4 separate regions of the Homo sapiens genome follow, and regions 2, 3 and 4 are each linked to region 1. Evidence: fine-mapped QTL for protein levels in blood plasma. A gene starts in region 1. Each other region holds a variant in brackets. All regions are shown on one strand. Distances are from middle to middle. Region 1 holds the start of GRIK2 (glutamate ionotropic receptor kainate type subunit 2). Region 2 holds the start of ASCC3 (activating signal cointegrator 1 complex subunit 3). Region 3 overlaps ASCC3 (activating signal cointegrator 1 complex subunit 3). Region 4 overlaps LOC107984041 (a long non-coding RNA gene).

Evidence for each region. A credible set is the group of variants that fine-mapping cannot tell apart. PIP is the chance, under the fine-mapping model, that this variant and not a neighbour inherited with it causes the effect. The UK Biobank Pharma Proteomics Project read protein levels with antibody pairs (Olink). The fine-mapping took linkage between variants from a reference panel, not from the people measured, so its PIPs are less certain.
Region 2: its variant is the best candidate, but not a certain one, in a credible set for the plasma level of the GRIK2 protein (UK Biobank, PIP 0.70).
Region 3: its variant is the best candidate, but not a certain one, in a credible set for the plasma level of the GRIK2 protein (UK Biobank, PIP 0.52).
Region 4: its variant is the best candidate, but not a certain one, in a credible set for the plasma level of the GRIK2 protein (UK Biobank, PIP 0.84).

The regions. Positions count from the first base shown.
Region 1 is chr6:101,389,366-101,397,622 of GRCh38, forward strand. GRIK2 (glutamate ionotropic receptor kainate type subunit 2) reads left to right here and starts at 4,343. Exons shown (of 17, transcript NM_021956.5): 1 at 4,343-4,472.
Region 2 is chr6:100,879,970-100,886,369 of GRCh38, forward strand. It overlaps ASCC3 (activating signal cointegrator 1 complex subunit 3), which reads right to left and starts at 1,360. Exons shown (of 42, transcript NM_006828.4): 1 at 1,092-1,360. LOC107984041 (a long non-coding RNA gene) reads left to right here and starts at 1,488. Exons shown (of 8, transcript XR_007059692.1): 1 at 1,488-1,685. RefSeq lists an enhancer at 1,204-1,323. The variant AT/A (reference allele first, on the strand shown) is at 3,531.
Region 3 is chr6:100,870,867-100,878,499 of GRCh38, forward strand. All of the region lies in intron 1 of ASCC3 (activating signal cointegrator 1 complex subunit 3), which reads right to left. Among named protein-coding and RNA genes, the nearest start is that of ASCC3, 6.6 kb to the right of the region's middle. The variant T/C (reference allele first, on the strand shown) is at 6,973.
Region 4 is chr6:100,886,791-100,895,047 of GRCh38, forward strand. LOC107984041 (a long non-coding RNA gene) reads left to right here. Exons shown (of 8, transcript XR_007059692.1): 2 at 5,208-5,255. It also overlaps the pseudogene LOC728098. Among named protein-coding and RNA genes, the nearest start is that of ASCC3, 9.6 kb to the left of the region's middle. The variant C/G (reference allele first, on the strand shown) is at 3,114.

The DNA.
Region 1 (8,257 bases):
GAGAACGAGACTGTGTCTCAAAAAAAAAAAAAAAAAAGTAAGTTATTAAAAACTGGAATTACTTTTACATCGATCTTATAATTAGCTACTTCAATTGTTTTGAAGTAGGACTTGGAGATTTAGGAATTGGTAAGGGAAGAGGTAACAGTAGTGGAGTAGATGGGGGGAGATAATGCCAAGTATTGTAACCTAAAGAGCCTAAGATTTATACTGGTAGAAAGGAAGAATGAGAGTTCTTGAAATGTTCAAAGATTCCTAAGTCATCAAGGTAGAATGGCCCTGACTGTTGGACAAGTATCCAACTACATTTTATTATCCTTTCACACTCCTGATAAAATGCTCCTGATAAAAATGCCACATTTTCTCCATTCTCCTTAAACATCTATTACTTTCTCCCTACTCAAGACTCTTAGCTTGCTTTTTACTTTTACGTCATGAAGAAAACACAAAGAACAACAACAGGACCTCGTATCCTCTTTCTGTTCCTATTCTTCTTCTCCTTCCCTTCCCTTACTGAAAAATTCAGTACTAAATTATTTAAGTGAGACCAAGCAAAACAGTCATCTGCGTGAGAGTTAGGATAGTGGAAGGCAGAGAGTGGTAAGGAAGGTATCTATGGAGCAAAGTAGCCCAGCATAGGGCTTTGGAGCGCATGTAGGAAAAATAGACCCTCAACACCACACTTAAAAACTATTTGACATCTGCATTATATACTGTGCCTCCCTTCCTATTACTAGGGTTTATTGGTCCTTCTCCTATTCCAAAGTAAACCCCTCTTCTTGTACTAGGTCCCATCCTTTCTTGACTAATCAAGGACATCCGTTCATTTCTTCTTCAGCATGTTTATGTCCAATTATGGCTAAAATGACCTGAGGGAATGGGAATAAGTGGGAAGCAAGATACCGGGTCTCTAGTCCTAGAACTATTTTTAACTCACTCTGTGACTCTTTAAGTTCTCATTGTCTAGATTTTCTCATCTCTAAAATCACATTGTTGGAATAGATTGGTGGTTCTCAGCTTAGGGTGAAGAAGCTCCTCACCAGCCCATGATGGCCTTCAAGGCATCTGTGCATCTCCTATTATTGCATGTAAAATTTTGAAGTCATTGCACATGTGTTCATTTTGTTTTCAGATGAGAGAAAGGTCTGTGAAAACTGAACTAGAGTAGATTTCCTTGAAATGTCTTTAAGTCTTGACTTCATATAAGTCTAAGTTTTGAAAGAGACTACAAGAGACGGCCTGATGCTGTTCTGCACAGTTAGAAGGCAGTCTCAGTTCTGCCACATCCTGAGTATGTCACTCCTTTTCTCTCACTTTGGTTTTTACCATCTATAAAATGAAGGTGTTTAATGAGATGATCCAAAATAATACTTTTCAATTTTACATTCAGTTCAACAAAATCAAGCCAAAACAAACAAACATCCTGGTAGTTAGCTTGAATTCAGACTGGTCTTTGCTGTGTCTTCAGAAATTGAAATATTGAGCTGCTAATGTTCTAAGAGCACTTTGAGAGGGAAGAAAGAGAGGGCGGGAGCCGGGCAAGAGAGAGTAAGTAGGGATGTTGTTCCTGCATAAGACTGTAGCTGAAGGACTTAGCAACCTTCTAAATTTTAGAAGATTAAACCTTAAGAGTGATTGGAAATAAAAGAAAAAAAAGCTTCATGGTTGCCCGAGAAGATACTTGAGATCTCATTCCTTAAATGTTTAACTTCCTAAATCCTAAAATAAATCATGAAAAATATTTCTTTATAGCATTGAATTATTTTTGAAGGGTTAAATAGATTGTGTGGTGTCTAATGCTCCCTTGTTAGTCTGTTTTTCTCATTGGAATCTAGATAATATTTTGCTATTGAGAAAATTAATTTGTCACAGCATGCATAATTTTGATTTGTTCTACACTCCAGCTCTCTCCTATTTTCTCCTATGCTGTTGTTGGGACTTGTTATTTCTGTCTTTACAAGTGTGTCCTGTTTGCTTCAAAAAAATAGATTCGTGACAAGGCTCTCAAATCATACACAGCACTAACAGGAAGTTGTTAGTAAGCCTCTCCTTTCCCAAGTACAATGTGGGTCTGGGGGCAACAGTGTGGAAAGCGGAAGGTCTATCCCAGTACCATTCTTTATCCAGCACCTACTGCATGCCAGACTCTATGCTAAACACTTAATGTCAAATTAGACACACTCTGTTCTACACTCTCAGAGTTGTCACAAGAGCTGGGTGCCTTCACTCAGGGATTTCCACTGGAATCTGCTCGTGCTGGTGTTTTGCTCCTTTCTGCCTGGAAGTGGGTGGATGTAATCATGACAAGGAGAGAGTCTTTAGCCAGTAGACAAGTTATCTTCCTTACTCCCATGGAGGAATGGGACAGAATGGGGCATTTTTTCGGAGCCTGGCCCAAACTCGGCTGTGCCTCGAGGGCCCATTAGGCTGCAGGTCACAGCAGCTGGAGCCCAGGCGCCCAGAACCGGTCACGCGTCTGTGCTGCCCGCTCCAGGATGCACAATAGAGTCATTGACTATTTATTTACTGGGTAGAACAAGGCTGCTGTTGACTTAATTAAGGGAGCCGCCCAGCCACCCCTGGGATCTTCAAATGACTAATGGACTCTCCATTGCCACTAACTCATCTCTCCTTAACATAAGTCCCCAGTCCCCCTCCCCCCAACCCTGCCCCACCCAGGAATGCTCAGTAAGCATGTTGTGGGGAACGGGGCGCAGAGAGTCCTGGATGGTGACCAAGAGGGAAAGACTGGCGGTTTTGGCAGGACTGAATTTCTGTGTTTCAGAGCTATTCTGAGCCAGGCGCTAGCCTCAGGGTGTGGAACATGGCCCTGCTGCGCCAGGGTCCGGCGAGGGCTTAACTTTACTAGGGCTGCAGTGAAGGAGGAAGCAAAAGGGCAAGTTCTGGTCTCCAGCTCAGACAACGGGTCCCTGGGGACTCAGAGCCTCTCTAATTCCCGGACCTCGGAATTAGATAGATAGTGGAGAACCACCAGGGACTGGAACTGCTAGGGGACTGCAGAGCCGTGGAATCCCCCCTGGCCCCTTCTTTATGCAGCCCGTTTGAAATGGTCTCTTGAGCCCAGTGCGCCTGGCCTGTTCCCGCTTAGCCTCACTTAAATCTCCTCGCGAATCTGAGCTGGCCAACTTCCTCTGGGGGAAACTGCTAAACTCAGCTCCAGTTAATATTGTAGGGCTGAGGATAAAATAGCAACGGTTTTGAATAGATGTTGACTTTTCCGACCCAGAGGAGCGGAACTCAGGGATTGTTTGCAAAAGCTAATCGTTTCCACAGTGAAGCAGGGAGAGCCTGGTGCGCTCACCGCCGCCAGCCCCTCCCTGGAAGCCAAGCTGCGGGAAGACTCTGGGACTCAGTTGCCCCTCCCCATCTCTGGCCTTTAAAAGAGTCCTCCCGAGAACTTGGACCAGTGGCCGCCAAACCAGGGCTGCTTCCCAGACTCCTGTCTCCAATCTTGGAGTCTGCGACCTCAGGTTCGGCGCCCACTAGATCTCGAATCCAACTTCTTTCTGAAATGTGTTTAGGTTGAGAGTTCCGGGGCCTGGGCGGGAGTTTGGTGGGGAGAGGGGAGTCTGCTATTTAAGGCGCCATACATACACAGAGACAGCCCGCCCGACCTCCTAACACTCAGGAAAAGTCAATTTCCAAGCATCTGTTCTCAATAATGGTGGCAGGGAGCAGGGCACTGTGACTCCCAGCATCTGAGGGAATACCCGCAGCAGCGCTACCAGAGCGCATTTGCTCTATGCGCTGGAGGTCGGGGTGGGAGGGTGCGCAGATCAAGATCTTTTTTTGCGAACCTCAGGGAAATGACCGTAGTTGGACTAAGAGGTCCACTTTGGAGACTACCAGCAGCCCTCCAAGCCCTGGCAGTGGAGAAGTTTCGTTGCTATGGTTTCGGAGAGGCATAAAAGCCATCACCCAGAAGCAAATGTGTTTGGGCTCCTTATATGTGTTGTCACCACCCAAGGCTAGGCAAATTCCTCGGCGCTTTGCATGCATCACTCACTCCCTGACAGAGCATCTTGGCCTTAGTCTCCCCATCCCAGGAGGCGGGTGTGCGCTAAGGGAGCGAAGTCCAGCCGGAGGCTTCGTAACATCCAAGTCTAGGGACACCAGGAATTCTCTCGCTCTAGCTCCTGTGGTCCAGGGGTGGGAGATGCCCCCGAGTGGCCGCGGCGGCCAGGAGCGTGCAGGGGCCACGGGGAAAGGAGCGCGGCGCCTTTAAAGCAAGAGGCGAGGAACCCCCGCCAGGAGGCGTGTCTGTCTCTGCCGCCGCCGCCGCCGCTGCTGCTCCTCGGTCACCGTCTTCGCCGCTGCCGTCACTCGCGCTCGGCGCCGGCGGCTGCGCTGGTCGGTCTGGTAGCTGGGGACTTTTCCGCCCGACCTCCTCCGGCTGCTCCTCCCCGAGGACCACCCCACCCCCTCCCCGCCCACCTCACCCCTAGCTCCAGGTAAGGACTCCCCGGCTGTGGGCTGCACTCCGGGCTCCTTCACGAGGTGTTTGTTTTCAAGAGGACGGGAGGGACTGCGGGTGGGCGAGGGGCATTTTCCACCTGGAGAGAAGGAAGAAGGCGAACAGTAGCGCTGCGGACGTCCGTGCGCTCGGGGCGCCCGCTGGACGGATTCACTGCGAGTCTTTGTCGGGCTTATCTCAGCCAATTCCCGTCAAGCATGCAAGTGGCTCTGTTGGCTGCAGTCGCCTATGTTCTCCACATAAAATGATTTAAGAAGTGGACGTGTCAGGAAGTGGCCTCAGCTACGGGGACTCACGCGAGGCGAAGAGAATGAGACAGATGGCAAGAAGCTGTGTGGCTGCCGGCGGGTCTGACGAACTCCCCATCCCTCCTTCTGCCCACCCATCCTTCCATTAACCCTACTCCTTAGTTCTGCGCTGAGGAAGTATATTTATTTTAACCGGCACCCGTATTAAGAGCTTCTGAAAAAACTTGGAGGGCGTCCCATTAGGGTAAGGAGTGGGCAGTGTTACCAGGGTGGATCATAAACCTCAAGAACTTTTAACGAACCACATCCTCTGATATTTTTACCTTTAAGGAGATAGAGTTTCTTTACCAAACAACACGACCGAGCTGAGGCTCCTTAGAGAATAATTTCCAATTTAGGCAATGGGGAATATTAGAAAACTTACTATTAGTAGCCTTTTGGTAATGCACAGATTATCTTCTATCGTTTATTCATCTCCATACTGTAAGTATTCTGTCATCAGAAATTATCTTATGGATTGATGATTATTTTCATTTCACGAGAGATGATTGGTTCATTTGAGTCTTAATTAGTCAGTTTAGTTACTGAAATAAATGCAATTGTATTTCAATCTTGATTTGTCTTAGTTCATTACTTTCTAACTTTATAGAGTCTATTCCTGTAACCACCAAGGCAGCCTATCAACTTCCAGTGGCCTTAAAAACTTTTGAGTCAAACAAACAACAAAAAATTGAAATGCACAAGAGCAAGGTGATAGAGAATTGAGCAATGTTTGGAAGTCTTATCTGTTTGTTTTCTCCTATTTAAACCCATTGAAAATCACACAGGCTGAAATTTAAAAAAAAAAGTTCTGGGATATGTAAATTTATTCCACTTCAATTTGTTAATTAAGATACACTTATTTTAGTGTCTAAAAATTAATCAAAACTCTAAATGTCATTAATCATCAATGCAGCAGAATGTTGCTGGAACAGCTGATAATGTGTTCAGAATCATAAGGGATACCACAGCATGCATAGTTAAGAAGAGTGAGTTGCAAGTATGCAACAGTGTGATTTCAACTGAAACCTGACTCAGTCCTGACTTTATTCTCTGAGATCTTTAATGCCATGTATAAACAGGCTGTTTGTTTTAGCTAAATTGCTATGCAACAGGCCACTTGCATGGAATAATAGGTTAGGTGTTACTATAAGATGAGGTTTTTCAAATGTCACATAACAGCAGGACTTCCGTGACAAGTCAAGTGGAATCCTTAGTAAGAATTCCATGTGAAAAATTTAAATATAGCTATGGCATGTAAGAACCTTTGAAACATCTTTGAAATTCAGGTTGTTCTGGGGTATGTATTTGCTGTTTCCAGCAAAAGGTATAGGCATTGTCTTTTTAAATGTTGTGCTATAAAGATTATTACACATTTTCTCATACCCCAGCAGGTGGCAGCTAACTAGAATAAGATTCATTTTCACTGGCAGAATAGGAAACTAAAATTGTTTCTCAAGTAATAGTGCCCAAGAATAAGAGGTCATTAGTATCTGCAAATATAAAAATATAGTGAAAGATGAAGCTAGTGGGTTTTTTTGTTATTGTTGGAAGAAGCTTTGCATTAACATGATATGCATTTTCTTCTTTGTCAATTTATCATAGGTTTGATATTTGTGTCAGCCTTCTATGATTTTTTTGAGGTATACTTCTAAATACAGCTTCTCTCTGGGTGTGCGTGTATGTGTGTTTTTGCAGTTTGTTATCTCTGCTTTGACCTTGGAATCTACAGAGCTTTGGCTCATAGAAATAAAGAGTGCCATATGGTTAAAATGAGGAAAAAAATGAGACCATAGAATAAAATATATAAATCTTACTAAGTATATATAATTGCCTGATATCCAATAGCAGTAGTTTTCTCTTTCCTTTAAGGAAGAAGCAAATTACAGAACTGACACAATTTTTAAAAGGGTTAAATCTAGTCAGTGAAATACTGTGTAAGGAATTTATTAATCCTTCATATAACCTCAGAACTATGATGTGTGGTATCAGTATTGGGGAGAAACTTGTAATAACTTCAAAATTGCCACATGTTAAGGCATCAACTATGCCACCAAATCATTTTATTGTAGTATAGGGATGTAAATTTAGCATTCCCCCCCCCCCCAGGAAGTGAGTGAGTTTAATGTGAAAGAACAAGAATTAATCTCATTACCCTAGTAACAGATGGAAATCTGGAGGTGGAGAATTGAAAGTGATAACTAATTGTACATTTAAAAAATGTCTTTAGCCACTGAATATTGACAGCATGTTATTTGGCATTCTGAATTGTGGTCTTTCTAGCAATTTTTTTTTGTACTGACAATCAAGTAGTTTAGTGTTCATGAGGAATCTCACAATTAATATAAGTAGTTTTTTTAACAGTATGCCCTATTACAAAAAAAGATAACTACATCTTGGGCTTATCAAGCAATTGCACTGAAAAATACACACAACACAGTTGATAAAATAGTCCTCTTGATAATGTGAACAATGCAATAATTCCAATTCCTTTACTCTGTGTAGTAGAAATTTACACATTGTCACTCAAATATCATGTTAGTTATTTATTGTGCTACTTTCAATGTACTACTCCAGAATAATGAATGCCAGGAGCGCTGTCCGTGGTCCTGAAGAAAGGTCGTCTCCAGTCTTTTAGAAGTTCAACTGGACAGGTGGAATTGCTGTCTGTTGTGCTAAAGCCTTTCAACTGAGTTGATGGATGTAAATGAATCTAATTTACCATATGTGCAAAATTGGTTCTTTGGGGATCAATTAATATTAAAAAAGTACAATCTTTTAACTGTTTAATTTATTGTGTAATAACTTCATGAATATAGAGGCTTGATCTTTCACTTTTCCAACTAGACATCCAAATAACCCCCCAAAATAAATAGTTTAGAATACTAGTTTCAAGTGCAAAAGTTGCAACCATAATGTAAAATGTCATTATATTAATGGAATACATGAACAAAGAGATGTGGTACATTTTGTTTTCTCAGGTTCCAATAAATGCCAGCTACACTGTGAAATTTCAGTATTTTGATTAGTCACAATAAAACATGCTATTTTCAGGTAGTAGATATCAGTTATATTGGCAGATAAAAATGTGAAGGATTATTTTTTTCCCCTGGCAGTCATTATTATCTCTGCTAGGATCAAAAAGAAAATGAACAAACAGAATGGAATAAATGAGACAGCAAATAGAAGACAGAACGTGTTGGGCTGTGTATGTGTTTTATAAGAGATATTTTAAACATGGACTGAAGGAGTCGCTAGATACCCTTGGTTTTAGCACTAGGTGTTCCTTTTAAGGTGCTCGAACAGTCGAATTATTTGATTGAATTGCCTGCTATACTGCAGAACTAGCCATTCATGATACTTATTTTTGACACTGCAGTTATTGCCTCCATCTTAAAAAAAATCAATGCCACTTAATGCCTTTGCAAAATGTAGATTTCTCTTTAAATTAGCACTTTATAATATCTTAAGAAAA
Region 2 (6,400 bases), 510 kb before region 1:
TTATAGAAAGTTCATGAGCACAGAGACTGTCTCTCTCTTGCTCTCCTAGGCCTAGCCCAGCGTTTGACACATAGGAAGACTTGAATGAATGAATGACAAAAAACTGTTAAGCAGGGATCAAGAAAGCTGAACCATGAAAAATTAATTTCTCATATAAATAGGATTATTTAGCCTAAGCTTAAGAGCATCTTTAAGGATCATTTTTCTCATGCAAGACTATTATAACCATCATTAAAAAAAAGAGACAACATAAACTGGAGCACAATCCATAGTAAAACCAAAAGCTTAATTCTCAACATTTGAGAACTTTGAGAATCAGAAAAAGGATTTCAATCTATGAAACATAAAATCTGGTGATGGAGAAAATGGCTGTCAATCTCACCTAACCTAGGGAAAGAAAGAAAATGTAACCATGAGTTTGAATGCACAAGTGACAACACATCAAACTTTTACCAGCCCCTAGAATTATGCTTCTTTTAAACCAAAGAATAGCAAATACCATTAGCACACTGCATTCCATGAGTAAGTTAATTTATAAGAAACCTATTTGAAATGACTGCCCAGTACTCACAAAACCTCCCTAGCACCCACATACACATTTATTTATTTCAAAATGACATTATAGGCTCCTTGATTGCGAAATTCACCCACAATCCATCACGGTCAGCTACCTATTTACTTTCCAGTGTGTTGGGGGAAAAATATGAGGAAGATTTCTTTCCCCAAATCTACGTGAAGAAAACGAAGTTATCAAGGCTTTGTAACAGAAAAAAAGAAAACAAATTACCCATGCATGGGACAGAAAAACCTCATCTGGTCACGTTGTGGCTTAACACTTGGACAATATGTAGCTTAGGTTAAGTTTTCTATCCCCAACCCCACCTACAAACTCTAGGAATGGGCGGTATTGTTGCGAGACCCCGGACTCGACCTCATGCCACTGAAAAGGATGACAGGTCGGGACTTGCCCCGGAGGCAGGAAGAGAATCTCTGGCGGGTCGCGTAGCCCGCCTCGCCGTCCCCGCCTCCAGCCAGCTCCCCTGGCCGCGGCGACCCTTCTCGTCCTCCCACCTCCACCTCCACCTCCTCACCTCTCGGCCTGGCTCACGCGTTTCCCATCACTCTGTCAGCTCCTGCCACCGCGCCTTCTTCCCTTTCGGTTTTACTTTAACTTCCCACGCCGGGTGAGGAGCTGAGCGCAGGGCCAAAGATGCGAGCGGGCAGCTGTATCGCCGCGCCCCGTCCGCCCTCCAAGCCGCGCTTGCCGGGGTCGCGCCCAGTCACAGGGAACCGCGTGTGAGGACCATCAGTCAGACAGACAGACGCAAAGACGCACAGACCCGGCGAGGAGGGACAGAGTGGAGCTGGCGCCGGCCTACACGTCACCGCCCCGCTGCAGCGCCAACGTCGGCACGTCGACTCGTCGACTCCGGGCCCTCTGCCCCGCCCGCGTGCGCGCGCCGCTCCGCCTCCCGCCTCCAGCCTCTAGTCCGCTGGGTTCGGAGGAGCAGAGGCGGAAGGTCCCGGCGGCGGCGAGGATGCGCCCCAGGGCGGGAGCGGGACGCTCCACTTTACCCTGGCTGCCCGCAACGGGCCAGGCCTGCCGTCTCTACCTCTCTACCTGTGAGTTTTTTCCCTGCATTTACTTCAGTCTGCCGCGTCTTCTCCCCGCCCTTCTCTGTAAGGTAAATATGTGGAGGAAATAATTCCTATTAAAGGTAAAGGAAAGGAGAGCAATTTGAATGAAGAAACAGGTAGTTGCTATCGTCGTTTTCAGCCAAAGCCCTCTGGCTGCTAGAGAGTATACATGGTTCTCTGGTGTCAAGGCCTGTTTTCCATAAGCTTTCTGGATTCTCAGCTTAGTTCCCTCAAAGTGATCTCTGCAAGTCGGCTCTTCGGTCAGAAGACCTCCTCCAAAAACAGAAAGCCCAAAGATTCCCTAACTCGATTGAAAAGATAGGAAGATACGAAGAAAAACTAACCTAAAGAATTGTGTGGTTTATCTGCAAAGAGTTCTAGACTAAAAGCCAACAATGCAAAGATAGTATGAGTTAATATGTTTGTTGTGGCTCTCTTCTGCCATTCCCGCTTCCTCAAGGTAATGTGCCCCGATGCCTGGTAGAACTGTTTTGTAGAGGCAGCCAATAGTGATCCAGTTATTGTCTTTACTGGTCAGACCACCTCTGAAGTGCTGTGTTCAGCATTTGAAGACTTTAATCAAGCTGGCATTATATCAGGGAAGAGCAAAATGATGACGAGAACTCAAAAACAGGGCAAGTGAAGAAGGATTGATTAAACCTTCCAGGACTCACCTAGAAGAGAGAAAACTACTGGACTCTCTCCAAATATGAAATGACCTATCATGTGAAGTTGATTTGTTTCATGTGATGCAAACTTCAGGGAACAGATTTAAGATCCTGAAAAGAAGATGCCCTTGTAGCACGACCCAAAGAATTGCCTACCTTAGCATGTGTGAATACCTCAACCACAGAATTTTGCTTCAAGGAGATTCTGAAGCTCACTTAATAGGGACTTGGTACAGGGGAGCCACACATCAACAGAATAATTAGTTGATGGTTTTGTTAAAGATATTTCCAGTCTTGAGATTACATGTGTCTTTGGTCCTGGACTTCATAGAGTTTACAAGTTAGTTCATGAGACAAGACAAATGCATCACAAAAATAAATAATGCAAGGAGGCCAAGTGATAATGAGAGGTGCTGATAAGTGCTAGGAATTCACATGACAGATTATTCCCATCACAGTTCCAGAGGCTTAAGGGAGAAGAGAGGAACTGAAAATAGACTACCTAGAACTGCCCTATCCATTGGGGTAGCCACCAGTTAAATACGTCTCTTGACATTTGAAATGTGGCTTGTCCAAACTGAGACATGCAATGAGTCCAAAATGTACACCAGATTTCAAAGACTTAGAAAACAAATGTAAAATATTGTAATTCTTATGTCGATTACATGTTGAAATAATATATAATGGATCAAATAAAATATGTTAAAATTAATTTCAACTTTATTTTTACTTTTTATGTGACTTCTAGAAAATTTTTAATTACATAGGTGGCTTGCATCATATTTGTATTACATAGTCCTGGCCTGGAAGGAAATTCAGTTAGCCCTCTGTATCCATGGCTTCTGTATATGTGTCAACCAACTTTGGAACAAAAACAATTGAAAAAAAAAAAAAAAAAGAATGGTAATGTCTGCATTGAACACGCACAGACTCTTTTTTTCTTGTCATTATTTCCTTAACAATATGGATGTAACAACTGTTTACATAGCATTTCCCATTGTATTAGGTATTATAAGTAACCTAGAGATGGTTTAAGGTATATGGGACAATGTGCATAGTTTGTATGCAAATACTATACCATTGTGTGTAAGGACTTGAGCATCCTGGGGTTTTGGTATGTGGGAGTGTCCTGGAACCAATCCCCTGTGGACACTGAGGGATGGTCTTACTTCATTGAACTCTAAGAGCTATCTTTGTCCTCTTTATAGTCCCCAGGGTTTCCCC[AT/A]TTTTTTTTTCAAGAGATGGGGTCTTGCTGTATTGCGCAAGCAGAAGTGCACTGGGTATTCACAAGCATGATCATTGTGCACAACAGCCGTGAACTCCTGGGCTCAATGATTCTTCTGCTTCATCCTCTCAAGTAGCTAGGACTACAGGTACCTGCCATCAAGCCCAGCTTCCCCAAATGTTAGTGGAAAGACAACCTAATGAAAATGGCCCTGATGACAAAGAGAAAGACCGTCCAGAAAGTATGCCATGAGCAAAGACAAGAAACAAGACTATAACTGCATTCTAGATAATGAAAACCTATTTATCTGTAATGGAACATTGTTAATAGAAGGTAGTGACAAAGTTAAAATGTAAACAAACTAGTCTATAAGGAGACTCAATTTTAAATTTAAAGAATTGAGTATAATAGGCAGTCAGTGTTTGGCAGTCACAAAATGGGATTGGGAGATTACTTTGGCAATATTGGGTAGGGTGGGTTGAAATTAGTGCATGGCTGGGAAACCAATTAAAACTCATTGCAGTGGGCTAGGCGCAGTGGCTCACCCCTGTAATCCCAGTACTTTGGGAAGCTGAGGCAGGAGGATCACTTAAAGCCAGAAGTTCAAAAGCAGCCTGGGCAACATAGGAAGACCCCCATCTCTACAAAAAATAGAAAAAAAATAGTCAGACTTGATGGTACATACCTGTAGTCCTAGTTACCAAGGAGACTGAATTTGGAGGCTCTCTTGAGGCCAGGAGTTTGAGGCTACAGTGAGCTATGATCATGCCATTCAGCTCCAGTCTGGGCAACAGAGCAAGACCCCATCTCTAATTGAAAAACAAAACAAAACTCCACATTGCATTTAAAAATATATCATATGGCTGGGTGTGGTGGCTCACAGCTGTAATCCCAGTACTTTGGGAGGCTGAAGCAGGTGAATTGCTTGAGCCCAGGAGTTTGAGACCAGCCTGTGCAACATGACAAAACCCTTTCTCTAAAAAAAAAAAAAAAAAAAAAAAAAATGAAAATTAGCTGGGTGTGGTGGCATGCACCTATAGTCCCAGCTGCTCAGGAGGCTAAGGCAGGAGGATCACTTAAGCTGGGAGGTCAAGGCTACAGTGAGCCATTATCGCACCCTTGCACTCTAGCCTGGGTAACAGTGAAACACTGTCTTAAAAAAAAAAAGTATCATACCAAAAAAAGGCTCAATATTGGATTTATTTAAATAAATTGTAATACATCTCTAAATATAGAGGCATTAAAAAAGTATAATGTGAATCTGTATTGCTTGATATGGTAATATGTCCAAAATGTACAGTTGTATGAAAGAGCTTGCAACACAATCTATACATAATATGAACACATTTAGGTAAAATTATATATGTTTGTGTGTGTCTTCTGTATGTGTGTAACATGATTATTTTGCAAAGAGTGCCTTAAATTATCTCAAAATTGTCTCAAGAACAGAAAATTTCAAGGTGGAAGTGTTTCCAACCTATTTCTTACAGCTCAACAAAATCATTCATGCTTTTGACTTTTTTCATTTCTATGTTTCATTATCCTTAGTATGTTAGCCTTTCATTATCAGATTTGCCACTTCATGGTTTGTAAGGATGGGTTGCCAAGTTTCAGAACCATTTCCAGCCCATCAGTCTCTGGATACCTCCTTCAGTATGTGTGTGCACTAGGTCTGCCTAGCTCACCAGTGTGCCATAGCCTCAGCTTCTAGGCCTTTCTTATTTTATCTATTGTCAGTCACTTCTTCCCTGCCCTTTTTCACCCCTGCCTTATCCTGCAACACCGAGTCTTAAAATTCCATCTTTACTGCACTCCAGTGCAGTTCCTGCTCTGAAGTTGATGCTTAACCTTTGAGGAATGCTGATTAATAAAAGACTCAATTCTAAAATGTTTTTCTACTCTTTTAAATAAATGATATTAGAAAAGAAAAAAGTTAGATTACTACCATGGCAGACAGTGTTGTTTGCCTCCTCAACCACCATTTCTTTCCTCTTTCTTAACTAGTAAGATGATTTTTTAAAAGTACCAAACAACTCAAAAAATGTGAGCTTCTCCCAAAGTAATTTCATTTCCCTTTGAATAAGAATGTTGTATAGGTGGGCATATGGGCCAAGGGACAATCAGCTTCGGAGAATCCTGCAATATGTTTTACCCAGGTTTCAAAATATGTGCTTACAATATATAAAGGGTTTTTCTTGAATTACTGTTCAATATGGTGAACTCGGCATATCATTTGCCTACTATCCTTTCCTACACACCATAGAAATAAAAATGAAGAAACAGAAAAAATGAAGAATAAGTGAAGGAGTAAAGATGATGTGTGCCTGTATGCATGCACTTACATGAGTAGAAAAAAGTAGATGATGTCAAGAGAAGCAAATGAAATTTCAAAAATGTGTTGGGATACAAAGCAAATAGTAGTGATTTGACCAAAACCATAGCCTAAAAAATATAGTGGAGAAGCTACACAGGATAGGGCAGAAGTGAGAATAAGGGCTGAAAATGGGGATAAAATATGGCACAATTGAATCTATCACCATACACATTTCGCTTTCTCAGACATATAGACTGAGAGCAAGCAAAAGATATTAATATCTGCCACCAGACAAAAAGACCAAAACTGACCCCCCAAATCTTCTCCAAATTAATTGAATAACTAGTACAGAAAAGTGAAGACTTTTAGGTTGATGACACAAAGGAAAAACATTCTTATTCAAGCATTCAGGGCCAGCATCCTGAGAATAAGCTAATTGCCTACTCATGTAAAGTGAAACTTCATATTTGGCATTCCTGGCCCTGTCCTACCTAACCCAGCCACGTATTCACAATTCCTACATAGGAGAGAGAGAGAACTGGCAGACTTCTTACC
Region 3 (7,633 bases), 520 kb before region 1:
CAGAGATTCTCAAACTTTATTATATATTGAAACTACCTGCAGGGCTTCTTGAAAAACAAACTGGCTGAGCCCTACCACCTTACTCTCTTCACCCCAATATTCCAATTCAGCAGATCAGATGGCACTGAGATGAGGTTTGAAAATTTACATTTCCAACAACTTTGCAGATGATGCAGTAGGTCAAGGATCGTAGTTGAGAACCACTGTCTTAGAGATGATGTCTTTTATTCTTTTTTTTTTTTCTTTTGAGACGGAGTCTCACTTTGTTGACAAGGCTGGAGTGCAGTGGCGTGATCTCGGCTCACTGCAACCTCCACCTCCCAGATTCAAGCAATTCTCCTGCCTCAGCCTCCCGAGTAGCTGGGATTACAGGTACGCACCACCACGCCCGGCTAATTTTGGTATTTTTAGCAGAGATGGGGCTTCCCCATGTTGGTCAGCCTGGCTTCAAACTCCTGACCTCGTGATCCGCCCGCCTCGGCCTCCTAAAGTGCTGGGATTACAGGTGTGAGCCACCATGCCTAGCCAATGTCTTTTATTCTTAAATCACCGCTTAATTTTGTCTCAAGCCAATAATGGCCAAGGAAGAAATTCATCTATTAAGAAATCCATGGACTGGGGGCCAGGCACAGTGGTTCACACCTGTAATCCCAGCACTTTGGGGCCAAGCCAGGTGGACTGCTTGAGGCCAGGAGTTTGAGACCAGCCTGGGCAACACAGTGAGACCCCCAACTCTACAAAAAAATTTTAAAAAGCCAGGCAAGTGGCATGCACCTGTAGTCCCAGCTACTCAGGAGGCTGAGGTGGGAGAATTGCTTGAGCCCGGAAGGTCAAGGCTGCAGTAAGCCATGATCATGCCACTGCAGTCAGCCTGGGTGACAGAAATCCATGGCCTGAATTCAGTGCATAGCCTGGCTCCTACCAGCCTTTCTCAATGGGGGTCTGTAAGAGAATACAACTCTTTTATTGAAAGTGACTTGACTTTTTCTCAATTCTCCCAAGAATTGTACACAGTACACAGTATGTTTGTACACAGTACACAGTATGTATGTACACTGTACATGTCATCCATAGAGAGGAAGTAAGGTATACAATGGATGCCAAAGCATTGGGGTTTTTATTTTCTACCCACACTGAGACACTGCAAAAATGTATTCAAGATAACTAAATTTAGTCAAGTCTTTAAAGAAAGGCTCTGATAGTAAACTAAACATACTCTGCCTCAGAACCTAGAACCTACCTTTTACCACACAAGTTAGTGCTTTCAAAATGTAGCATCAGAACAAGAAACATGATGTATTAATACTGTGCCTCTGGCATGGTCTTACAAATTAATGGGGTACTTGGGACCACTACTTTCACCATTTTTATATACATCACAGTAATGTCCTGAATCCTCTGTGCCTTTCTTTTTTAAAAAGTAGAAAGCAAGACTTCATTTTTATTCTAACTCACAAACCTAGCAAATCCTAACAAGATAATACACTCAACCTCTAAGAAGAGATCTAATATTAGGATTCGGTAATGAGGTCACATTGTTACAAACTACAGTAACTGAAAACTTTAAAGCTCCCTGAGACCTGAGTAGAAAAAAAAAAGGGTCGGGGGGGGATCATGGCAGACGGGAGGCAGGACTAGACTGCAGCTCCCACTCTGACAGAGCACCGTGTGGAGTCTTGCATTGTAAACTCTTGCTCCAGAATGACGGCAGGAATAAATCAGGAAAGCCAAGAGAACCCACAGACCTTCTGAAGGAAGCAGATTGCTCCTGCAGGGCCCAGGATATACCCCAAATACTGTGCTGGTATCCATGACTGAGAGACCCACAGACGGTTCACATCACAGGTCTCTGTGTAGACAACCCCCAGTACCAGCCCAAAGCCTGGTAGACCTGCTGAGTGGCTAGATCCAGAAGAGAGACAACAATCACTATAGCTTGGCTCTCAGGAAGCCATATCCCTAGGAAAAGGGGGAGAATATCATCAAGGGAACACCCCGTGGGACAAAATAATCTGAACAACAGCCTTGAGTCCTAGACCTTCTCTCTGACAGACCCTACCCAAATGAGAAGAACCAGAAACCTAACACTGGTAATATGACAAAACATGGTTCTTTAACACCCCCCCCAAAAAATCACAGTAGCTCACCAACAATGGATCCAAACCAAGAAGAAATCCCTGATTTACCTGAAAAAGAATTCAGAAGGCCAGTTATTAAGCTAATCAAGGAAGCACCAGAGAAAGGCAAAGCCCAATTTATGGAAATTTAAATAAACAATAAATGAAGGGAGAAATCTTCAGTGACATAGACAACATAAATAAGAAACGAAACTTCAGGAAACAATGGACACATTTATAGAAATGCAAAATCCTCTGGAAAGTCTCAGCAATAAAATTGAACAAGCAGATCTTCAGAGCTCGAAGACAAGGTTTTCTAATTAACCCAATCCAACAAAGGCAAATAAAAAAGAATAAGAAAATATGAACAAAGCCCCCAAGAGGTCTGGGATTATGTTAAATTACCAAACCTAAGAATAGTCAGCGTTCCTGAGGAAGAAGAGAAATCTAAACGTTTGGAAAACATATTTGGGGGAATAATCTAAGAAAACTCTCCCAGCCTTGCTAGAGACCTAGACAATCAAATACAAGACATTCAAAGAACACCTGGGAAATTCATCACAAAAAGATCATCGCCTAGGCACACTGTCATCAGGTTATCTAAAGTTAATATGAAGGAAGGAATCTTATGAGCTGTGAGGCAGAAGCACCAGGTAACCTTATAAAGGAAAACCTATCACATTAACAGCAGATTTCTCAGCAGAAACTCTACAAGCTAGAAGGGATTGGAGCCCTATCTTCAGCCTCCTTAAACAAAACAATTATCAGCCAAGAATTTAGTATCCAGCAAAACTAAGCTTCATAAATGAAGGGATGGTACAGTCTTTTTAGGCAAACAAATGCTCAGAACACGCCACTACCAAGCCAGCACTACAAAAACTGCTAAAAAGAGCTCTAAATCTTGAAACAAATCCTGGAAACACATCAAGTAAAGCTCCCTGAGATCTTATCAAAATAATCAGCATGAAATTATGCTTGTTAAGGGAATGAAGCAAAGCACATTACCAGATTTGCTATTTTTATTTGATGTGTTTTCTTCCCCAGGTTGAATGAGCAACACTAAAAATGTAACAGCTCATTAGTTCATTGTTACCTATAAATCATTTATACACAAATATTTGAGTTTCTCCTATCTACTAGGATCTGGGCTAGGCACTGGATGTTAATGAAGTTTACAGTTCTTCAAAACTCATTGCATTTTAGGCTGGGCGCGGTGGCTCACACCTGTAATCCCAGCACTTTGGGAGGCCGAGGCAGGCGGATCACGAGGTCAAGAGATTGAGACCATCCTGGCCAACATGGTGAAACCCCGTCTCTACTAAAAATACAGAAATTAGTTGGGCGTGGTGGTGCGCACCTGTAGTCCCAGCTACTAAGGAGGCTGAGGCAGGAGAATCACTTCAACCCGGGAGGCAGAGGTTGCAGTGAGCAGAGATCGCACCATTGCATTCCAGCCTGGCAACAGAGCAAGACTCTGTCTCAAAAAAAAAAAAAAAAAAAAAACAACTCATTGTATTTTGTACCAGGAAAAAGATTCCCTTTAAGTTTTATTTGAAATGTATAAAGGTCAAATTGAGAAAACAAATTTTAAATATTATGTTATTCATTCACTAAGCAAATATTTATAGATCACCCACCATATATTAGATATTTTATGAGGCTCTAGAGATTAAAAAAAGAAAAACATTTTGATATGATTGCACTTGCCCTCAATGATGAGCTTACAGTATGGTTGGGAAGAAAGAAAAATAGTTGCAATAATTATGCAGCTATAACTGTAGGAAGACAGGGAAGGAGCATCTAAAGGGGTGGGAGGGCACTAGATATAAAGAAGGAAGCTGAGCTTGAGCTGAGACTTAAAGGACCTAGACAAGGTTATTACAAGAGGTAAACTATGAGGGGGAAAGCCAAAATAACAGACTTAATTACTTTTAAAACCCCTACAGAATGTGCATTTGGAAACTGATGAAATAAGACCTAAAAATGTAAGCAGAGACCAAACAACATGTCTCAAATTAGGCACTTTTCATTCTGATAATCAGAATCACTGAAAAAATACTAACATGTTACAGAAAAATTACTCAGATTTACATGTGGTGAACTGTCAAGGTGGGGTCAAACAGGACACAGGCAAACCAGTTGGGAAGTTATTTCAATAAACCAACTGAAAGACAGAGAGGATAGAATTAAGCCAGGGAAACACATAAAAGGATGGATTTAGGAGATCAGTATACTTGGAAGACAGAATCAATGTGGAATAGGATTTAAAGAAGGAGAAAGGAGCAGGACACTCAAATTTCTGGCTTAGGAAATGTTGAAGAGTGGAGGAGTCTATATGTATAGAGGGCATCAGGAAGAGGAATGATAATTCTGTTTTGGAAAACTTTAATTATGGGCTATCAAGTGGGGCATATGGTTTTGGATTTCCTATCAGAGGTCTGGGCTGGAAATCCAGAATTTCATGTTATCACTTCATCATAGTTAAAACCATGGATGAACATAATATTGTCTAAGTCAAATATACATAAGCCCATGGACCCTCTTCCTAAGAAAACAGACATACATACATATAAACAACATTTTGTACTCCATTTCAAAAGCTGCATGAATGCCCATTCATGCACTCCACCCCTAAAGGCCTCTTGGAAGTAGACAGTAGAGAGTTAAGAACAGAGTTCTAAGAAAGTGATCCACAAATCAGTTGTCATATGGAAAAGTGATATGACAACAGAAAAGAAAGTTTCAAATGACATGATACAGTCCACTGTACTCAGCCACTCTGCGGTCCTAGATGACTAGCACACCTAGTTTCCAAAAATGGTAGAAGCTAAATCTCAGTGAGTTGAAGGATAAACGCAAAGGGAGAAAATAGGGAAAAAACAAACAAACAAACAAAAAACCCTACAAATGGGTACATGCTATTCTTTCAAGAAAATGAGAAAGAAAAGGAGAAAAAGTAGGAAATACTGAAATAATGTGGTTTAAGAGTTTCTGAAAATAAAGGATAGAGTTGATCATGATTTTATCATAATCAGGGGAGAGCAAAGAGAGAAGGAAAAGTTGAGCAATCAGGAGAAAGACTGTGACTGATGGAGTAGGGTCTCTGAGAATGCAGGCGAGAATGACAACAAAAGCATAGGTCTAGAGAGACTTGGATAGATGAAGGAGTACGGAAGGAAGGATGAGTGGAAGTGCATATGGTTATAACATGGTTAAGCAGAGGGTGAATGAGGAGAGAAAAACATGGTAAAAGGGAGTTCCACCAAAATGACTCTGATTTTATTTGAGATATGCTAAGACTGTTCAAACAGGTGATGAGGTGGGATTTTTTCTAACACAGAGGCAAAAGTCTGAACTTACCACCCACAATAATAGAAGAAATATTTTTCAGGTAGCAATGAATGCTCAGCTCATACTGCAAACAATTTAAGGTGGCAATAATCTGGCATAGGAACAAAGGTTGGTGTGAACCAGGGTTAAGGTTTTGTAACACAGAGGCAGTGGGACAATGAAGCCTAAATGATAAGGGTTATTAAGTGCTTAACTTTAGGCCTAGATGAAAGGAAAAGATGTTCAACTAGGAGGTCTTAAAGATGAATCATAACATTCATAGTTAAAATTTCTGGTAAGATCACAGTGAATAAGGATTAAGAAAAACTGGCCTACATATCAATTTTTACCTTACTAATTTTTACTCCACATTTAATATGGTCCACTAAATGACAAATATATAAATGAAAAATTCTGTTAATAATAAATATTTAATGCCCCAGAACAAATATAATTTCTAAAGGATTGAAACCCTAAAAGCCTACTTCTGTTCGTCAGAAGTACTGGCTGTGGCTATCTGAACAAATCTTTAAATTGTTAATTAAACATACGTACAGGTAAAAAGAAAGTCTTAAAAATGTAACTGTCCTTTTTTACATTCCAAATAAGGAGAAAACTAAACTGATGGTAGCATATTTCCTTTTGCAAGATGATATTAACCAATAATCAGTGAGCTAGAATTCCAGTACACACTATTCTGAAGTACTACATTTAAAATTGTAATGTTTATTCTTCTTAAACCAAACCTGTGTTTCTAAACTCTAAAGATGGTCTGACTGCTTGATAGCAACTTTAGGAAAAGATAGTTACTGTATTTTTTCGTTATAAAAATATGAAAAGATCTCCAAAACAGCCAAACTATATTTCCTAATAAGTTTAAAGTCAGCACTTAGTTACTGGCAATTATGGATACTAGGGAATTATTAAAGGGACAAAAATAGTCAAAGTGATATACTGCAGATTAAGGGATAAAAACACTGACATGAAGGAGTAGGTTGTAAATGGAGTAAAATTAGAATTTAAGATTTCAGTACTTAAAATAGAATCTTGTACCCACAAACCACACCTTGAAAAATGAACAGTGAATAAATATTAAACAGTGAATAAGAATATTTATATTTTATTGTGCCTTTTTTAAAAATTGAGTTGTGATATTGTTAACATTAGCAAGATCAGAACTCAGAAAATAACCATCGTCGACACATATTTATAATCCTCCATTATGCGATTTCAAAAGGGGGTGATTTTTTCATGATAAATCCTAAAGATAATTTAATTTCTTACTTGTATTAAACCTTATTACCATCAATTGGTTCATACAGCAGAGTCTAGGCACATTTAACTTTCTTGAATCTACCAAACACTGTAGGCCAAAAAAAGGAAGGCAGAGACAGACAAAAACAATAATTACTAGAGATTCTGCTTACCATTTCAGGTATTGAATATCTGCTCCAGAGTGAATGGGGGATGGGCAACAAGAATCTTGCTCTTTTAGTCTGTTTCAATCACCACATGCATCTCAAAA[T/C]GTGAGCATCTTGCTGCATTGCATGATTCTAGTTTTTAACACTTTTTCTCTTTTTTTAAAAAACATACAAGGTGGTGACCAAACACAGAGCAACTTTTTCACTGGGAGTTCATCTAAAGAAACTGTGATACATTCCAAGTCAGGATGAAAAACATGGCTGTGTAGGACATGCTGAGAGACAGCATGTTATGCCAACTTGATGTCCTTTTAAGGGATTCTCAAAGGTAATCTTAGCTATTCACAGTTTCCACCTAACAAGTTCACTTTAGATGCTAACTCATTCTTAAGCAAGAAGCAATTGCTCCTGAATAGTTCTCAATCAAGTTAGGAAACACATCTGAAGCATGCAGAACAGAGAAAGCATGACAAAAATAATAAAACACATAAACACTTTTCACACAATACAAAATATATAATGGTTAAAAACAACCAAATTTCTATGGGGCTCTTATTCTCTAACTTATCCTCTAACTAGGTTTCCCATTCAAAGGTGGGGGAAAAAAATCCTGGACAGGCTCATAACTATAAAGCAGATTAGTCTTTATATTCAGAATATTCCCCCCCAAAGTTGTGTTAATTTTACTTTTAGCACAGGGTAAGGAAGGCTTTTCCTTTAAATGTCCTTGGGAAAACAAATAAAAAAAAATATTTTAACACCAGA
Region 4 (8,257 bases), 500 kb before region 1:
GAGCCAATCCAATAGGCTCAACCAGTAGATGAGAAAGATTTTTAAAAAAAAGGGGAGGGAGAGTGAGAAAATTATAAGTTTTTTTTTTTTAGAGCAGAGAAGAAAATAACTATTCAGATTTGAGTAGACTCAGGGTATTGAAAAATAGATTAAAAAACTCATGCCTGGAGATATTATCATGTAATGCCACAAATAAAAATTATGAAGAAGAAGAAATCCCCAAAGTTCCTAAACATAAAAGACTTATAATCAACAAAGGAATAGGGACTGATGCTATCAGCATCACTGCATACCTGAAGACATGACAGAATATTTTCAAAATTGTAGTTGTAGATGTTTTTCAGTCTACAAGTCTATACTCATTCAAATTATCAATTAACTATGAGAGTAAAATAAAGATATTTTCAGACTAACAAGGATGTAGAATATTTTTCTCCTGGGTGATCTTTTGGAATGTCACTAGGCCATACAATCCAACAAAATAAGGACAAAAAGTTATGCTGATGCTAGAGAAAGGTAAGGACAAATCTCTGCAGGATGGCTGTGCAGCAAGTCTAGAGAGCAAGCAGTATACATTGGAGAAGAGCATGGAGGATTCAAGAAGTGAGGTCACATAAGAGAAAAAAAAAGAAGGAATTCAATAGACTAGATGGTAAGATAGGAAATTTGAAAAACAAAAAAATGAAACTGTGATATATATATACGATGGAATACTACTCATCCATATAAAGGAATGAATTAATGACATTCACAGCAACCTGGATGAGATTGAAGACTATTATTCTAAGTGAAGTAACTCAGGAATGGAAAACCAAACATCTTACATTCTCAACTCATAAGTGGGAGGTAAGCTATTAGGATGTAAAGGCATAAGAATGACACAATGGACTTTGGGACTCAGGGAAAGGGTGGGAAGGGGGTGAGGAATAAAAGGCTACTAATTGCATGCGTGTGTACTGCTCAGGTGATGGGTGCACCAAAATCTCACAGATCACCAGTGAAGAACTTACTCATGTAACCAAACACTACCTGTGCCCCAATAACCTATGAAAAGAAAAAATTTCAAATAATAATAATCAATATTTAAAAAAAGTAAAACAAAAAATGAAGATATAGTAAACCAAATAGTGCCAGAATAAAAGGGAGGAAAGAGTAGTTCCTCAAAAGAAATTTTTAAAAAATATTACCATGGAAAGGGTAAAAAACAGTACATATGCAGGAAAATTAGTACCGAAAGGAAGAAAGAGAGCCAATGAAGGAGAAAAAAAGAGTGGTTAAAGAGTTATGAGATAAACGAAGAGTATATTTAAAAAGTTTTCTTCAATCACCAAGGTAATTCCTGCTTCAGAGTTAAGGAGGGTGAAGATTGAGTAAATGTCTTTGGAAATTTAAGTGATTGATGATTTGAAGCAATTTAGTAACATGGTAGGCATGGCATTAGATGTCAAGTGTAAGAGAGTAAATGAGAAGTGAGAAAGTGAAAACAGTGATGATAATTGTTTTTGTCTAATAAATGAATGAAAAATGCAGGGCAATATATGGAAGAAATATCAAGGTCCAGAAAAAAACTGTTACTTGCATGTTGTTTTTAGGATAGAAAAAAAAACATATAAATAGAAGGAAAGAACCTATAAGAAGTGAATCAAGTAAGGAAATAATAAGGTAAAGGCAGACAAGGATACACTGAAGTCTGTGGGTGAAGTTATTCTTAACCTTGGTAGAGAGAAGTTTTCCTGGGACACAGGAGGGAAGAAGTAGAGGATGTTTGAAAATACAGGGAACATTTAATGTGTTGAGGAATGTATAGCTATATAAATTTTGAAGTGAATATGCAATATGAAAGCCATGTTTCTTTTGGTGTCCTTGAAATTATGAATTGTTCATTGCAAAAATATTTTAAACTACTTCCAATCAGGTAGTGAGATATTAAATTTTTATAAAATACAAAAATCAGACAAAATCCAATTTCAAGAATGCAGTCATAGATTAGGTTGCAAAAAGCAACACCATTCTCAGTCAATATAAACATATGAAATGAAAACTACAAGTCACAGTTGTCACTGGTTAATTTAACCTGGTGTCCAATTGGTTTCCTAAATGCCAGGTGATACCCCATGATAAATGTGGGTATACCTATGAACATATGTTAGTGTGTGTGCATGAGACCTAGAGAAAAGAAAATTGGAAGTAATTAGCTTCAAAACTAATGATTTTTATCTAGCCTTTAATATCTGAAACTAGATTTGACTTTCTTATACAAGCAAATAATCCACCAAAGTTTGGGGCTGAAATATATTTATCCTTAAAGCATTGTGTGAAAAGGGAAGAATCATTCCTTGCCAACTGTTGTCTTTCTATCATTCCTCCAAGAGATAAGTTAGGATATGAGACCCCAAACCAACAACTTAATAGAGTTTTCTTCTCATATAATAGGCTAGTGATGGGTACTCCTGAAATTGTGTAGTTGCTTTCTCAATTTAGTCATCCCGGGACGAGAGTACCTTCTTTCTTGTCACTTTGCCATTTCTAGAGTGTTGTTTTCATCTAATAGTTCAAAATGGCTCACAGTCATGACCATATATATTTCAAGCAGCAGTCTAAAGGAAGAGGAGAAGAAAAGGACATATCTTTGGGAACATGAGTTGAAAGTACACCTATCGAGGAGGAGCCGTGCGCTGCTGGTGCTGCTGGTGCTGTTGCCGCCGCTGCTCTCGCTGCAGTCAGTCAGGCTGCGCCTGCTTCTTCAGGGCCCAGTCCCTTGGACACATCGCCGCTTCTAGACCCTCCTGCAGTCTCGGATATTGCTGGGAAAATGTCTGATGAATTTTCGTTGGCAGATGCACTACCTGAACACTCCCCTGCCAAAACCTCTGCTGTGAGCAATACAAAACCTGGCCAACCTCCTCAAAGCTGACCAGGCTCCAACCCTTGGAATAATCCGAGTACTCCACCTTCGGTGCCATCTGGACTCCCACCAAGTGCAACACCCTCCACTGTGCCTTTTGGACCAGTACCAACAGGAATGTATCTCTCCGTGCCTCCCACCGGACCACCTCCAGGACCCCCAGCACCCTTTACTCCTTCTGAACCATCATGCCCCCCACCTGGTGGTC[C/G]TTATCCAGCCTCAACTGTGCCAGGCCCTGGCCCATAGGGCCATATCCTATACCAAATATGCCCTTTCCAGAGCTACCCAGACCATATGGTGCTACCCACAGATCCAGCTGCAGCTGGTCCTTTAGGTCCATGGGGATCCATGTCTTCTGGACCTTGGGTGCCAGGAATGGGAGGGCAGTATCCTACCCCTAATATGCCCTATCCATCTCCAGGGCCATATCCTGTTCCTCCTCCTCCCCAAGCCTCTGGGGCAGCACCACCTGTTCCATGGGGCACCGTTCCACTAGGAGCCTGGGGACCACCAGCACCATATCCTGCCCCTACAGGATCGTATCCCACACCAGGACTCTATCCTACTCCTAGTAATCCTTTCTAAGTGCCTTCAGGACCTTCTGGTACTCCACTGATGCCTGGTGGCCCCCATTCTTACCATTAAGTTAACAATGGACGAAGAGATGACGCTTTGCTTTTTGAAGTACGTATATATGCACATGAATGCATATATAAAAAGTGCTGGTTTCACTATTAGAGGGCATTCATGAAAGAACAACTCTTGCACCTCTCAGAGAAGATAACTGCCTCTTGTACTTGGATGTGTAGTACATCATATGTATACAATCAGATAAAAGCATAGAAGTAAATCATTCAGATGTGATTTTTATTTGGTTTTCATGGAAAGTTAAAGTGATAAAGTATATTCACTAGCTCTTTGACAGAATTTGTTTAAACTATGAAACTACACACTTAAAAATCTAAGATGTGGATTATTGTTAGAATCTGTGACTTCATTGGCAAATTACTTCAAGTATTTTTCTATAATCACTTTCCCCTTCTAAATAAATAAACTTTGAGAATAACCCATCATAATCCAAACAAGTGATGCCTCAACATTTTGAGCTGCTCTGTCGGACAAATAAACCTGGTCCTCTTGAGGTTATATTGTGGATGTCATTTTTAAACTGTCAGTAATTATTGTCAGATGTGGAGTTCAATAGCCAGCCAGTGTTCATTTTTATCCTTGAGCTTTTAGTAAAAATTTCCTGGTTTTATTTTTAGTCATTGGGTCATACAGCCCTAAAGTCTGCTATTTATGGAAACTAACTTTTTTGTTTTTAATCCAGGCCAACATGTATGTAAATTAAATTTTTAGCTAATTGATTAAAAAAAAAAAGAAAGTATACCTATCACTTACAGTCATATTTTATTTACGAGACTTAAGTCACATGGTGACACCCAGTTGCAAGGAAAGCTAGAACATACAGTCCTCATTTTAAGCAACTATATACTTAGTTAAAAAGCATGGGTTCTATTACTGTAAGAGATAAAGAGATATTTAGAGATAAATGTTTCACCCATAAAGCTTTTCCTCAGTTAAAGCAAACATACTGGTATTAAGCAGATAAGGGTAGCCTCTCTTCAGTTCTTATCAGAACTGAACCTCAGGGAACAGAATGGAATGTAATGTCAATAATAACTTTTATCTCTTTCAAGCATATGAAAATTGAGCTAGTAGAAGATGGCAAAATAAAATGCTGGATATTAATTATTTTAAAAATTAATTTTTCCTGAAACTTAAACTATTCTTAAGTATTTTTATGATTAAGTGAAATTTTCATTCACTCTACCCACAACTAATTAAGCATATATCTCATAATCCACACTTTGCTAAGCATTGTGAAACATTCCAAAGAAAAATATGATATGATCTCTATTCTCAAGGAATTTACAAGAACTTACAGTTTGGGTAGGAGACAAATTTAACATTCACAAGACTTTTCAAAAACAATTAGGTGCTGAGTTGTGTGATACTTCTTTTATGAATACAAAAGGAGTCTAAATTAAAGATAGGCCCCTGTTGGCTGCAGGAGATTAAAAGCCTTTGTGGAAAACTGAAATTTGAATTGATCATATAAGTATAGGTAGAATTTATTTATAAAACCTTTCATATGTAAACTCTTAAAAGGTGTATTTGTAGGATTCATTCTAGAATATAAAGTTACTGAATTTTAAAATTCTTTTGTTGCTGGTGATAGTTTAAAGGATAAAAGTGGCTGATTCAGTGTATATGCCAGTTTTCTGTGTTTTTGCTTTAGGTTGTATCCACGAGTACCAGCAGAGTGCCTGACACATAGTAGACATAAGTAAGTATTTGTTAAATAATTTTCTTTTTATAATAGTGTTTCCTTTATTATTTGACCAAGAACTTTTAAAAATTGAGCTATAGCTTTTTTAAACATTGAAGTGTTCCAAAGTATAGAAACCTTAAGTGAACAGTGCTATACACCACTTCATGCAACTGATAGATGCAGGAGGACGATAAGGGAGGGTCCTGGGAGAAGCTCCCACTGGCCTGGGCATGGGGAGGATGGGGTGGAGCCTCAGGAAATTCACGCCATTTGCAGGGGGCAGGAGCCTGGGCTCATCAGTTCCTGTGTGGTGACCTGGGATTCAATCTGTGAGGCCTGTTAACAGGAACCCCTCTCGCTTTGCAAAGTATTTTTTTCCTTTTTGCCCAGTAAATTCCATTCCCCCTCACCCTGCAAAGTGTCTGCATGCCTAATTTTACCTGGTCACTTGGCAAGAACTTTTTTTTTTTCTCAACATTTTTGGCACCCAGAACTTGGGACATGAAGAAGGGTGAGTGAAATGTGGACTGAAAACCTCTCACTTTTATTTCTGAGTATTTTGTTCCTATGACATTTTTCTTCTTTTTTTGAGGACAGTAACAGCATCTATCTTTTCTCCTCCCCTCCCCTCCCCTCCCCTCCCCTCTCTTTTCTTTTCTTTTACAATATGGGAGGTGGTCCACACCCACCACAACAGCCACAAGCATGCCTGTGGGTTGGTTGGGCAAGCAGTGGCTCCCCACCCGCCTTCTCTCCCAGCTGAGTGGAGTGCATGGCCCTGACTGCCACATGTGTGTGCAGTGTCCAGCTGCATGGCAGGAATGAGCCACAGTCACTATCCAGGCACCAGGGCCGCCTTGGGGGCTTGGGCTCTGCACAGCTGGCTGGCCAGACTCCTGCTGGGTCCATGCCTGGGGGAAAGGAACCAATTTGCAAAAGAATATGAAGTTCTTCCCCCAGGCATCTTTCCAACCCTGCACTTTAACTTTTGTTTCCTTTTCGCTATCTAGTCAGCAGTTAATTTTTATGTGAGAGGGTTACTTTTTTTTTTTCTTTTTGGAAAACATTTTAACCAGGCCAGGACCCCAGTGATCACTGTTTATATTCTCTGTAAAGTTTCAGTTATGAAAAAGGATTTGTGAGATTGGTCTTAAGCGATAGCCAATCCGGTGTGCTTTGCATGACTTTCTGAATGATCAGCAACAAAGTTTGCTGTGGGCCTCCCTCTTGTTTTAGGTCCTTGAGAGCATGATGTGTAACCCTGTGGCAATGCTTTGTTTAGCGTCTACACAGCCAAGATTCAATCCTGGCTTAAGAAATGACTCCTGTTTGGTTTTTTGTTCTTGCAATAGTTTACTGAGAATGATGTTTTCCAATTTCATCCATGTCCCTACAAAGGACATGAACGCATCATTTTTTATGGCTGCATAGTATTCCATGGTGTATATGTGCCACATTTTCTTAATCCAGTCTATCATTGTTGGACATTTGGGTCGGTTCCAAGTCTTTGCTATTGTGAATAATGCCACAATAAACATATGTGTGCATGTTCTCACTCATAGGTGGGAATTGAACAATGAGATCACATGGACACAGGAAGGGGAATATTACACTCTGGGGACTGTTGTGGGGTGGGGGGAGGGGGGAGGGATAGCATTGGGAGATATACCTAATGCTAGATGACGAGTTAGTGGGTGCAGTGCACCAGCATGGCACATGTATACATATGTAACTAACCTGCACAATGTGCACATGTACCCTAAAACTTAAAGTATAATTAAAAAAAAAAAAAAGAGAAGAAATGTATAATACACCTAAAAAAAAAAAAAAAGAAATGACTCCTTTCTGCTTTGATATCTGTGCGACCTTTGCCATTTATTGATTCTCTTCCTCTACATGAACCACCTCGGATTTTCCTTTCCCTGAGCTTTCAGTAAAGTTTGAAAGCCAGAAATATTGGCCGCTTGGCACAGCTAAAGTCAGGTAATAAGGTGTTAAAAGGATTTTCTTAAAGAGCATTCAGCTTAATTGAAAGTGGATATCCAAATTATAGGTATATTTAAAAGATCTTAATGTTTTTCTCTTCTGGGATCTTGTTTGGCTGGAAAAAGTGTTTTTTTGTTTTGTTTTGTTTTGTTTTGTTTTGAGACGGAGTCTCACTCTGTTGCCCAGGCTGAAGTACAGTGGCACGATCTCGGCTCACTGTAATCTTTGCCTCCCAGGTTCAAGTAATTCTCCTGCCTCAGCCTCCCAAGTAGCTGGAATTGCAGGCACCTGCCACTGCACCCAGCTAATTTTTGTATTTTTAGTAGAGACGGGGTTTCACCATCTTGGCCAGGCTGGTGTTGAACTCCTGACCTTGTGATCCACCTGCCTCGGCCTCCCAGTGGAAAAAGTTTTGTTCTCAGTGAATGGAATTCTTTTTCTCCGTTTTGCCTTGCCACTTTCAATGCATGCATGAGAAGGGAGAGACCTCTGTTTTCCTAATGGAATTAAAAGTGGATAGATTCCTCTCAAAATCTGTTTTTGCCCCCAGTTATGCCTGTTTATTAGGCCTTAGAGGCTATGTGTTTTCCTGGCCCTGTCTCTTAAAGGGCTCCACCAGGAGGCCAGTAATCCAAGTAGGAGACTGGCAAGCAAAAGATCTTATGGCAACTGGGTTTTCTTATGCCTGTCTGTGTAGTTTTATGTATGTGTTGTGTTTGTGATGTCTATAAAAATAGCTTTAATTGGCCTAAAGGAAAATGAGTGCTTGCATCAAATATTTTTCAAAGGGAAGATAAAAGCTGTGATACTTTTTAATTCATGTGACTTTAATCTTTGAGAAGTAAAAAACAGCCTTAAAGATTATAGGGGCCAGGTGCGGTGGCTCATGCCTGTAATCCCAACATTTTGGGAGACCGAGACAGGTGGATCACTTGAGGTCAGGAGTTCAAGACCAGCATGACCAACATGGCAAAACCCCATCTCTACTAAAAAAAATATAAAATTAGCTGGGTGTGGTGGTGCATGCCTGT